3 linked regions of the Homo sapiens genome follow. The protein of the gene in region 3 purifies or fractionates together with the protein of the main gene of each other region. This does not show direct contact. Each region holds a gene or a part of one and is shown on either strand. Other genes may lie near its edges. The genes, in order: HACL2, METTL9 and SLC30A7.

Region 1 (3,747 bases), on a different chromosome or scaffold from region 3:
TGAGGACATCAAGGCTTGCCCAAGTAAGACTGAAAGTTCAATAGAACCCACGCTCTTAAGTGCCCCACTGTTACACTGCCTGTCTCCAGGATGGCAGGGCAATCAGGGAGAGAGGAGAGGGTTATATAACCCAGGGGGTTTGGCCAGGGGCACAACGCACGCAGAGCAGATGGCAGGGAGCCATCTGCTGTGACTCCTCCCTGCCCTCCAGTATCCTTGCAGAGCCTGGCAGCTGGGCTCCTGATCCCAGCCTCCCTGATGCCCTCCTGATGGACGCTAAACAGGCCCAGGGCTTAGTTGACAGGCTGCCAGCCACCATGTGCCTGGCACGGGAGTGAGCTGCTGGCACAGACTGTGCCGAGGCCTCCCAACTCCAGCTGCCTCACAGCCCTACACATCCAAGGCTTGCTTTAAATCTCCTAAGTCCTGAAGGTCAGTGGCATCACTCCTGGCTAGCAGAGGAAGCAGTAGAGAAGGGTTTGGGGAGGGAGAGGTCAAGCTTGGTCCCTGCTAGGAGAGAAAGGGTTGAGGAAGGGGTCTGGAGAAGGGGTAAATTTCAAACAGAGGTGCAAGGAGTTTAGGGGGACACCTGTGGGGTCAGCTCTCTCCAAACATGTCACCTAGGGCAAACCACCACACAATCTCTCTGAGCCTCAGCTTCCTCTTGCAGAAAATGAAGACAGAAAGAACAGCACCTACTTTCAAGGAAAAGGTAAGGGGTAGGTAAGAAAGTCTACAGTACTGAGCTCAGCAGAGGGCAACTGTTATGAAACTGTCACTGCCACCCCCTCGCTGGAGCCTGCCCTCTGCCCCATTTATCCCATCCAGGTTAGGGAGCACAGAGTGCTGTCCATCTGTTCTGTGAAAAGAGTCACTGGGGAAGGAGGTAGGTGGGGTGCGAGTGCCCCGGCAGCGGCAGCTTCCGTGTTCTCTCTTACCAGTGGCAAAGTCCAGGCCTCCATACACAGCGTGGCAATGGAGACAGGGCCCTGGACAGAACCTCTTACCAGTCCCTCTGGACTAGTCGGGGCTCGCTTTCCCACCCTGCACAATGAGTGAGCTGGAAGCAGCACCACGAGGCCCCTCCCTCTTTGACTGCCCCCAGCCCACCTCCCATTCTGTGCCCCGCACCTTGTGCAGCAGCTGATAGAAGAGCCCCAGGCGGTGAGCGGCGCCCAGCAAGGCGGCCACCAGCGTCCCGCAGGCCAGGAGCAGGAAGGAGGGGAATAAGCTCCCAGCGGGGGCGGCGGCCGCGGGGGTCTCCATGAGGTGGTACCTAAGAGAGAAAGGGCACTTCCCAGACTTGGGCGCGACAGGGAACCTCTCCGGAAGAAATCGCGCCCCTTCTCGCAGCAGGATCCAGGGCCACGACCCTTGCCGCCAGTTTCTGTGCGGCCACGCCCCCAACCCTGCCAGACCACGCCCTTTGTGCGCCTAGGCTCGGGGTGAAGCCATGCCTCTCCGTGACAAGGTCACGCCCCTCGCGGGGCTAGCCCCAGTCCTTTACATCACCACCACTCCCACCCAAACTAGCCACCACAAGTCAAGGTGGCGACGACAGCACCACACAGTTATCTTCCACTTACCTACTTGTCAATGGACAGGCGGAAGCCCCGCCTCTCTTTCCACAACCGGACCCCAAATCTCAGCCCCAGTAGTGAGCCCGCCCCATGTTACGTCACCAAGAGGCACGAGGTCACGCCCCCGGGTTAGCGGGCGCGACCCTCCACGCAACCCACGCCTCTCCCTTAAAGAGCGCACGGGCCCGAGCCTGATCCCCGACCCCGGGCCAGGCTGGGTCGAGGTCACATCGCATCAGGATGTGGTTCTCCCACACCAGCTCGACCCCCGACGCTATTCACCTTCACCTCCAGGATATGGCGCTGCCTCCAGCAGAATTCGGCCCCCTCCGTGTCACGTGACCCGGGAGCGTGGCCGTGCCCGGGTGGCCCACTTGGCTCAGCGGCGCCCCGTAGTCCGGCCCGATGCGCATGCGCACAGTCGGAGCCCCGCTCCGGGGCCACCCGAAAGAGCCTTGCCTCTACTGGCCGCCTCCCTCATAGACCCCGCCTCCCCTTGCCTTTCATTGGCTCGCACTGCAGACCTCACACCCATTTTATGTTTTAAAACCAGGAGGCCACGCCCCTCAGCGGCTTCAGGAGCCCAGACCTTTGGGGGCCCACCTTCCGCAGCTTTCCATTGGCCCCACGGTGGAAGCCCGTAGGTTCAGGCCCTCCGAACACAGCTCGCTTTCCACACCAGCGGGGCCGTACCAGAGCAAGACCATGTCTCACAAAATAATAATAATACTTAAAAAATGGTAAATTTTATGTTATGTATATTTTCCACACTATAAATAAATATTTGTGCATGTATATATATATATGTGTATATTTTTTGTATAATAGGTATAGTAGTAAGCAAAGGAAATTCACACTGAGTCACATTCTACAAAATGCCTAACCAGACCTCTACAAAACTGTCAAGGTCATGAAAAACAAAGACTGAGGCACTGCCACAGACTAGAGGAGGGAAAGGAGCTGTGACAACTAAATTCAATATAGTACCCTGGACTGGATCCAGGAATCAAAAAAAGGACAAATTTGTGGATAAAGTTGGTGAAATCCAAATAAAGTTTGGAGTTGAGTTAGTAGTAATGAACCAGTGTTAATCTTTTTGTTTCAGTAAATGTATTATGGTTATATAAGATGTTAGCATTCAGGGAAGCTGGATAAAGAGTAGACAAAAATTATCTTGCTATCTTTGCAGCTTTTCTGTAAAGCTAAAAAAGAAAAAAAAAGTCTTAATAACAAGGATACAATTTTCCAGAGAGAGAGAAAGATGTTGTAATAGATGTAAATTCTTTCTTGGGAGACAAAGCTTTAACATGCTCCAAGACTAATTATCTGACCAATCTCTCCCCAGATAAAGAAAGATTGTCACTAGGCAAATGTCCAAAAAGCTTCTCAGCCGAAAGCTGGATTATTCAACAGTCCCTGAAACAAATATACACAGAGGACAAGTGATTTTTTTAAAAAGGGAAACAAGCCTGGCATGGTGGTCCATGTGTGTAATCCCAGCACTTTGGGAGGCCAAGACAGGAGGATCGCTTGAGGCCAGGAATTTGAGACCAACCGGGGCCAAAAAGTGAGACCCAGTCTCTCCAAAAAACAAACAAACAAACAAACTTAGCCAGGAGAATCGCTTGAACCCGGGAGGTGGAGGTTGCGGTGAGCTGAGATCACGCCATTGCACTCCAGCCTGGGAAACAGAGCAAGACTCTGTCTAAAAAAAATTTTTTTTAAAAGAAAAAAAATTAGCTGAGTATGGTGGCACGTGCTTGTTATCCCTTTTGCTTGGGAGGTTGAGAAGGGAGGATTGCTTGAACCCAAGAGGTTGTGTCTACAGTGAGCTGTGATCGTGCCACTGCACTCCAGCTGGGGCAACAGAGCAAGACCCTGTCTCTAAAAAAAAGGGGGTGGGTGTGGGGCAGGGGAGGAAACAAATACCATGTATCTAAATTGATCGAAATTTAAAGAGAAGTGCAACAAATTATTGAGTTAGAGGGATACAGTAAGGGCCTCTCTTAGGACAAGCAGAAGGACTCTCTAAGGAGGTGACAGTTGAGCAGAGAGACCAGGAGGAAGTGAGGACATGGGCCCCACAAGGATCTGGAGAAAGAGTAATCCAGGTAGAGAAGATGGCACATGCAAAGGCCCTGAGGTGTTTTATTAATTTCCTTTGATG
Region 2 (3,747 bases), on a different chromosome or scaffold from region 3:
TGCTGGGATTACAGGCATGAACCACCACGCCCAGCCCAAAGCTTTATTATATTAGATTTCAAATTTCTAACATATCAAAGTAGCGAAGTAGTACAGTCAACCCCCTGCCATCACATGGCTTCGACCCAATCTTGTTTCTTTTCTCCTCCCACCTACTCCCTCACTCCCATATTATTTTAGAGCAAATCCCAGCCATTTTATCTGCATCTTTCAGAATATATCTCTAAAAGACAGGAATTCTTCTTTAAAATAATGCTAATTAAAATAGTCTATGAAAGTAATATATACTTATTAGCAAAAAACAGGTTATTAAAAGTAGAAGCAAAAAGTCACCCATAGTCCTTTTGCCTGAAATAACTCCCATTAACATTTTGATATATTTCTTCACAGATGAGAAAAAATTAAGAACTTTCCCCCCTTCCCTGCCCTATAATCCAAATTGTGTGGGCAAATCTGAGATTACTAGATGTATTGGAAATCCTTTCTCTTTCATAGATAAAAAAACAGAAGTAGACAGAATTTTAAAAATAGATATACTATGGGATGGCTATTGGAGTCATGGCAGTTTTTTTTTTCTTAAATGAAAAGTACTTTTATAGAAATTGTTCTTTGAAAATATTCAGCAAATAATCATTTATTGCTTTCTATGTGCAGATCAAGTTTGTATGATAATTAAATTATTGATAACTTATACCTACGATTTTAAGAATATTTTCAACCCTTTGGTCAGATTGTCTCCAATTAGCATAATAGCAAAGAGACTTTTCAAGGTTAATATGAAACTTTTTCTCAGCTATTTTTTTATTGTCTATTTCTCAGGGGAAAAAGGAAACTTATCCTCTTAGGCAGTTTTCATAATGTTATACATTTAAAAATTAATCTGAAGGAGCTTAAAATATAAATGCATTAGGTGAAAAATAGCAGTTGATTTAAATAAAATGAAGGAGGAGAAGAAAAAGAACCTTACCGACACAAAATAGAATGAGATTGGTTTGCAGATGGCGAGCGATGTTGCTTCTGCTCGCAGTCCCCATTTCTGTGTATGCCGGGGCGGGTTGGGGTGTGTATTTGAAAGGAAAGTTGGCTTTCTTTTTTCAGAAGGGAAGAAGAGCTGAAGAGAGGAACCTCTTATGAAGGAACCATAATCAGGAACTTTTTGAAATTGTGCAAGGATGGCTTCACCATTTAACATTGAGATTTTGGCCTGGAGCACATTTAGAAATGTGCATATCTTTTTTTTTTCCATGGATTTTACAGTTGTCATAGGTGTTAGATGTTTCTGGGTGAGATTTTGATTTACACCTAGCACATATTTCCAGGAAGGAGTATTGTTTGACAAATAATTCGTACTTGGATTTTTCAGAACAGTTCAGTCACTGTCTAGGGTACCTGCTCTGGGTGCCACTCTGGGCCAGTAACTGCTGGGAACAAAGAACAGCAGAAGGAGAAGTGGCTTTGTGTAGAGATGAGAAAAGTTAGTAAACAACACATTCTAATGCAGCGAATAAATAAATTGTCTGTTATTAACTTTTTGTACTCCAGTTTTGAATCCAAAGACACCTGCCTTCCCCCCTTTTTTGACAGGGTCTCTATCACCCAGGCTGGAATGCAGTGGCAAGATTGCAGGTCATTGCAGCCTCAGCTTCCTGAGTAGCTGGGACTACAGGCATGCACCACCACCCCTGGCTAATTTTTTTTTTTTTTTGTAGATTCTGTGTTGTCTAGGCTAGTCCTGCCCTCAAGCGATCCCCCTGCCTTGGCCTCCCAAAGTGTTAGGATTACAGGTGTGAGCCACCATGCCTGGCCCAAAGACCCCCTTTTAATGTGTTGAGAAACAAATATGTGGGCCCTCTGTCCTCTGTGTCCTCTCCCCCAGCACTTAGTGGTGATTCAGTAAGGGTCTTCTTTGTAAAGCAGCAGAAACAGACTCAGGCTGACTTAAAAGGAAATTTATGCAAACATTTGAAGGTAGATCCTAGAGTCACTGGGAGGGCTAGTGAATCTTGTGTGGGGTCCACAGCCAGGAAGAATGCCTCAAATCACACCATAAACAGGTCTGAAGAGGATGCTACTGCCACTGCCAAACACTAGGTGCCATCAGCCCTGTTGTCAGCATCGCTCAACCACTGCCCCAGCCCCTTGGTCTCACTGCCATTGCTCCACCCCCAGAGAAGGAGAAGCTCACATCCCCACTACTCTGGGTCACTGGCTCTCCATTCCAGGGCATGGGCAAGTGTGCCTGGCTTAGGCTGCGTGCCAGTGCCTCAGCTGCACGGCAGGCCAGGAAAGCGGCTCCCAGGCCTTGTGTCTCTCCCAGACTCTGGGCAGGCAATTCCCCAGACATGGGAAGAGCGTCATCTGCACCACTGAAAATTATGAAAAATCTCCCCACCATGATATGATGTCTGTGCCCTTGGCATCTGCTCATGATATATTTTCTCATTAACAGAAAGTTATTCTCAGTCTGTTTTGTTTTTTTTTTTTTTTTTTTTTTTGAGACAGAGTCTCGCTCTGTCGCCCAGGCTGGAGTGCAGTGGCACGATCTTGGCTCGCTGCAAGCTCCGCCTCCCGGGTTCACACCATTCTCCTGCCTCAGCCTCCCAAGTAGCTGGGACTACAGGTGCATGTTGCCATGCCCAGCTAATTTTTTTGTATTTTTTTTAGTAGAGACGGGGTTTCACTGTGTTAGTCAGGATGGTCTTGATCTCCTGACCTCGTGATCCGCCCACCTCGGCCTCCCAAAGTGCTGGGATTACAGGCATGTGCCACCACGCCCGGCCTCAATCTGGTTTTAACACTTCAACAGATGTATGTAGTTTTTGTATCACCATAGCACCTAAAAAGTACCCCCAAAGTTAAATATACTGTCATCTCTGTGTGTGTGTCTGTAGTCAGTGCCAGGTTTGTATGTGAATTTGAGGACCTTCCCTAGTCCCCTTGTCCCCCAGGCATCTCCTGCTCATAGGTTTGGAAATGACTGATAGAGGCTTCATCTCTAGTCCAAGAAATGCTGGACGGTGTATCCATCCTACTGTTCCATCTCTCTCTGGTCCTGGAGCTTAATGTTTATGAAATTGTTCTGAAAAGGCAAAGAATGAGTCAACTTCCCTAGAAAAACTCCCCAATGATCTGCTTTTCTAAATTAAAATCCTTCATGAGCCTGTTTTTATTTTCAGCCTAATAAATCTCTCTAGGTAGTAAGTTGCATAAGTTTACTATGCCAGTGGTATTTTCTTGCATTTGTCCAAAACTGTCCTTCAGATATTACATGTTGCTCTCTGTTTCAGTATTCCAGCATTTAATGACCAGTTTTCCAAACCCATTAACCATTACACCCTGCAGTCAGTCTATTGGCAGATACTACCCAAAACTGTCAGAGAAGATAACAGTGTGGGGCCTTGGATCCAGACAAACCTGGGCTTACATTTCCATACTGACACTCATTAACCTTGCAAGCGTGGGCAAGTTCTTCACCCCTTCTGAGTCTGTTCTTTATCTGCCCACCTGTCTCAAAGAGTACCTGGGAAGTACAAAAGAGGTAACTCATGAAGCCCTCAGGCTTGGAACGTACCAAGTCCTTGGTAGATATGGCTCCTCCCTGCTTCCCTCTTTAAATCACTTGTTTGTTCAAGAATTTAACTGAATGTTCTTATTTGTATTAGTAGGTGGCAAGTGGGAGAAACCATCAGAAATTTTGGAAATCAAAGGACAGAACTGGGAAGAACAAGTGAATAGTCTGCCTGAAGT
Region 3 (3,747 bases):
CACAAAACCTGGTGATATTACCTGTCAATGTTTGATCTCAACAGAAGATCAAGGACAGCGATTTTCTCTGAAAATGGGTCTTAAACAACAGAGACTAAGTCTATTTAATAAATAGAAAACAGGTTCTTAATCTAGAGTCCAAGATTTAGTACAGGGAACCCAACAACATCCTGAAGCTTTATGTACAATTCTGAGTATTGGCTTTCATCAGATTTTTGAAGGAGTATGGGATCTAAAGACAGAATTAGTACACCTAGGAGTGTGACAGTCTTGTTAGCAGAACAACTTCATAAGACCTTAAGTTACTCAACAGCAAATACCTGAATAATAGTAACTTCACTGCCACAGAGTTACACACTAGATTTTCCTCCTCCTAAGGATGTTTCAAAAAAAACAAAAACCCTCAAAGGTGCCACCAAAACCCAAGAAATGTTGTTTCTAGAAACTATATGGGATTTTTACATCGCAGTTAAGACTACAGGAAAATCATGAGACAGTTTCGGCATTAAAGAGAGAAGAGAATGACACATATTCCTCCCGATATCACTTTATAAAACCTCCCATTCCAAGCCCCAATAACAAACTAAGTAGAACATCTCAGATATACTCTCTCAGAATCTTAAGGGTGAAATCCAAATGCCACTCCCCCCCGAGAGAGGCAGCAAACAAGTTTCTCCCAATTCCAACAAAGTGGGTAAACCTAAGGCCTACAATTAGAAATGAAAGATTCTGCCCATCTGCTAAAATAAGGAGGGGCTTGTCAGTCTTGTCTGATGGAACTGGAGGGGAGCGTGACAAGAGAGGTTGCACAGGATAGGCCCAGATCTTACTCAAGAACTGTAGCCCTACCAGATTGGTGTGGGTATGAGAAAGCAACTCAGCAGCAGAGGTAGGTAACAAAGGTAGGACCTGAACCTCCTAGTGAGGAGCTACGTGGCATTAAGCAAACAGTGCTTCGTCTCCCTCACACCCAGCTTCCGCCCAAACCATTTTCCCCTTTGGTTACCAGTTGCTCCAGATGCCGTAGAGTAGTTCCACAAAAGCGAAAGAGAGGTTCAGGCACAGGAAGAAAAACAGGTTCCGGGAAGTCTTGTCGGACAGTATAGACCTGGGAATGATACACGTGGAAAAGAGCCGGGAGAGTTAAGGAGGTGCCGGGACCCCGAGGCTGGGTACCCTCTTCAAGACCCTCCCAGTTCACATGCTCCTTTCTTCACAGCTAGGGGTTGACGGGGAGTTTTTGACTCTCCCTCACTGGACCTCGGGCCATCCTGAGGTCTGGGCCTTCTCCCTTTCTGCCGGACACCCCCTCCCCGCAAACACAGCACCCCGCACCTAAACCAGCCCGAGATCTTGCCGAACAAATTGAACTTGGGTGGTTTGTATTCATCGTCTTTGATGGACAGGGGCAACATCTTCTCTGCCCGGCGAAGGGCCGGGTCTACTCCCCTCTAGAAGTGGCTCCGTGGGGTGATGGCAGTGACAGTAGTGACGCCTCAAACGGGAATCCCCAGCGCTTGTCCGGGGCCGCGCGCCGCTGCGAGACACAGACAGACACAGACACACACCCGGGAATTCGCTTACTTCCGGCCCGGGCCGCGCAACGCGTCCTGGGACAGGAAAGGAGGGAGGCCGGTCGCGGGCGGGGCCTGCGCGGCGGAGGGCGTGGCTTGCGGCGGGGGCGGGATGAGAAAGGTGCTGGAGCTGTTGGAGGGACGCCAGGAGGTGGCAACTACCAGGGGGTGTGAGGGGCTGACCTGGGATGGAATCCTGCCACCCGGACTCAGGAAGAAAATCCTGAGGTGGCGACCTGCAGACTGGGCTGGGAGATGGAGAGCCCGCTCACGCCCACCCGACCGCCTACCACCAGTGTTCCCGGATGCATGGGCTCCAGCGCCTGCCCTTTCGCCATTTCCTCCCAACTGGCATTAAATCCTGGTGTGGTAGATATCAGTGATTAAGAGTCTAGGCAGCCACGTGTTCTATTGCCGCCAGTCCGCAGGAAACGCAAGTGATCGTTTTGCTGCGTTAACTCTATGGGCGCCCAAATCTTAGGAATCCATTCCACGCCACCCCGAAAACAGCGCTTGACCCTTCTGGACTGCCACGCAGGAGGCGATCAATGTTTTTCTTTCTTTATTTTTTTAAGAGACAAGGTCTCGCCCTGTCACCTAGGCTGGAGCACAATGAGGCTCACTACAGCCTGGAACTCCCGGACGCAAGTGATCCTCCTCAGCCTCCGGAGTAGCTGAGACCTCAGGCGTGCGCCACCATGCCTGGCATCAATCAATGTCTTTCAAAATAAAGGCTGTTAAACGTAGTATAGGAAAGAAGCTTTTTAATGGTAGGTTCTACCAGACGTGTTTGTTTGATTTTTAGGTTTGGTTAATGCATTGTTTCCCGTACAATCTCAACCCGCGGAAACCCCGAAACTCTAGAATTCGTGCCGGTCTCTTTCGCTTCCAGGTCATCCCCGGGGCAACGGCCGCCGCTCTAATTCTTGTCAGAACCTCCAGGCCAGTTTCAGCAACGTGCAGGCAGAAGCTGGCCCCTCGGTGGGATGCGAGGGCGTGTGGAGCGCGGGGAGGAGAGCCCCACAGGCCTTTCCTGGGCACCCGCGGTGGATGGGAAGGCTCCTTCGGGCGCCTTTCAGGGAAGTTGTTTGGCTGAGGGAAGGTGGTCCGTCACGTGAATGTTTAAAAGTTGTTACCTTGGAGAAGAAATGGAGGAAAGGATTGGCTTTCGGAGGTGGGCTGGAAACTACAAAACCGAGCTTCCTGGGAATGCCTTTTAGGCCGACAGGAAGTGGAGCGTCACCGAAAGGGAGGGGCGGCCACTCGGGGACTGTCCCTTGCTCCAGGCGCTCACTTTGCGGGCGGCACTTTTTCCAGGTTGTTAATCCAGCTAATGGAGAAGGATAGATGCACGCTACTTGGTTTAGAAAAAAAAACAAAAATGAGCAAACGAGACGCCCCTTCCGTTTTATGATAACTAAGCTGCAGGGAAATAAATCGGCTGGCCCTACTGCAATCTACTGCACTCGAGGTAAGGAGACACAGCAAAATGCTCCAGTATTAGTATTTTTCTTTTTGTAGTGAGGATATATGCATGTTTTGCTCTCGTTCTGAGAACTTTGTGTGTGTGTATGGAGTATTCGGTGGTTTTATTTTTGAAAATATGTACTTATTCTACAATTTTGAAAAATGTTAATTAAAACTGCTGTGTAAAAACAGCTAGGTTTCAGAAGTAAGTTCTGGGAAGAGTATTTTGTATTTGCCTTTGTTAGCGTATATTTCATTCTTTTAATTTAAGTGTAGAAATATTTAAAATTAGTAGCATTTACTCTTTTTTTGGAAGGAAGTTTTTGTATTAGCAGTAGACCTTGAATTTTACTCTACTGCACTGCTGAGGAAAAATTAATTGGGTGCAAACTAGATAGTTTAAAGATAAATAATTCTATGGTAATTGGATTTTTCTCCAAAACGCCCTTATTCAATATGATTTAACTTGGGAGAAGGCGGGAGAAGTAATAGAAATAATTAAATTTCAGCAACTGATTTCCAGCATAATCCTAACTCATCAAGGTCAGCTGCATTTTGAACTTTTTTGTATTCTGCCTTTGAAAATAAGTCCTATATTTTATACTGTATTGCTACAAATCAGAAATCGCTTAAGTGGTTTATGGAGAAACCTACATTACCTCTTTTCAAATAGTTTTGAAATGGGTACGAGAAATTGAAGTTTAAT

The links.
Region 1: the proteins of SLC30A7 (region 3) and HACL2 purify together in Homo sapiens (co-immunoprecipitation; 2 studies listed by BioGRID and IntAct, with this or other methods). This does not show direct contact.
Region 2: the proteins of SLC30A7 (region 3) and METTL9 purify together in Homo sapiens (co-immunoprecipitation; 2 studies listed by BioGRID and IntAct, with this or other methods). This does not show direct contact.

The regions. Positions count from the first base shown.
Region 1 is NC_000019.10:15,123,794-15,127,540, forward strand, and holds the start of HACL2 (2-hydroxyacyl-CoA lyase 2), read right to left. Parts: upstream 1,994-3,747; 5' UTR 1,863-1,993; exon of another isoform or gene 1,587-1,862; intron 1,400-1,586; exon of another isoform or gene 1,277-1,399; 5' UTR 1,267-1,276; coding exon 1,132-1,266; intron 713-1,131; exon of another isoform or gene 671-712; intron 433-670; exon of another isoform or gene 367-432; intron 1-366. UniProt on the Homo sapiens protein: Endoplasmic reticulum 2-OH acyl-CoA lyase involved in the cleavage (C1 removal) reaction in the fatty acid alpha-oxydation in a thiamine pyrophosphate (TPP)-dependent manner. Involved in the phytosphingosine degradation pathway.
Region 2 is NC_000016.10:21,651,565-21,655,311, forward strand, and holds part of METTL9 (protein-L-histidine N-pros-methyltransferase isoform 1 precursor), read left to right. Parts: intron 1-967; coding exon of another isoform or gene 968-1,034; exon of another isoform or gene 1,035-1,044; intron 1,045-3,662; coding exon 3,663-3,747. Other genes in the region: IGSF6 (immunoglobulin superfamily member 6 precursor), read right to left, coding at 968-1,034. UniProt on the Homo sapiens protein: Protein-histidine N-methyltransferase that specifically catalyzes 1-methylhistidine (pros-methylhistidine) methylation of target proteins.
Region 3 is NC_000001.11:100,893,931-100,897,677, reverse strand, and holds the start of SLC30A7 (zinc transporter 7), read right to left. Parts: upstream 1,589-3,747; 5' UTR 1,416-1,588; coding exon 1,336-1,415; intron 1,109-1,335; coding exon 1,007-1,108; intron 1-1,006. UniProt on the Homo sapiens protein: Zinc ion transporter mediating zinc entry from the cytosol into the lumen of organelles along the secretory pathway.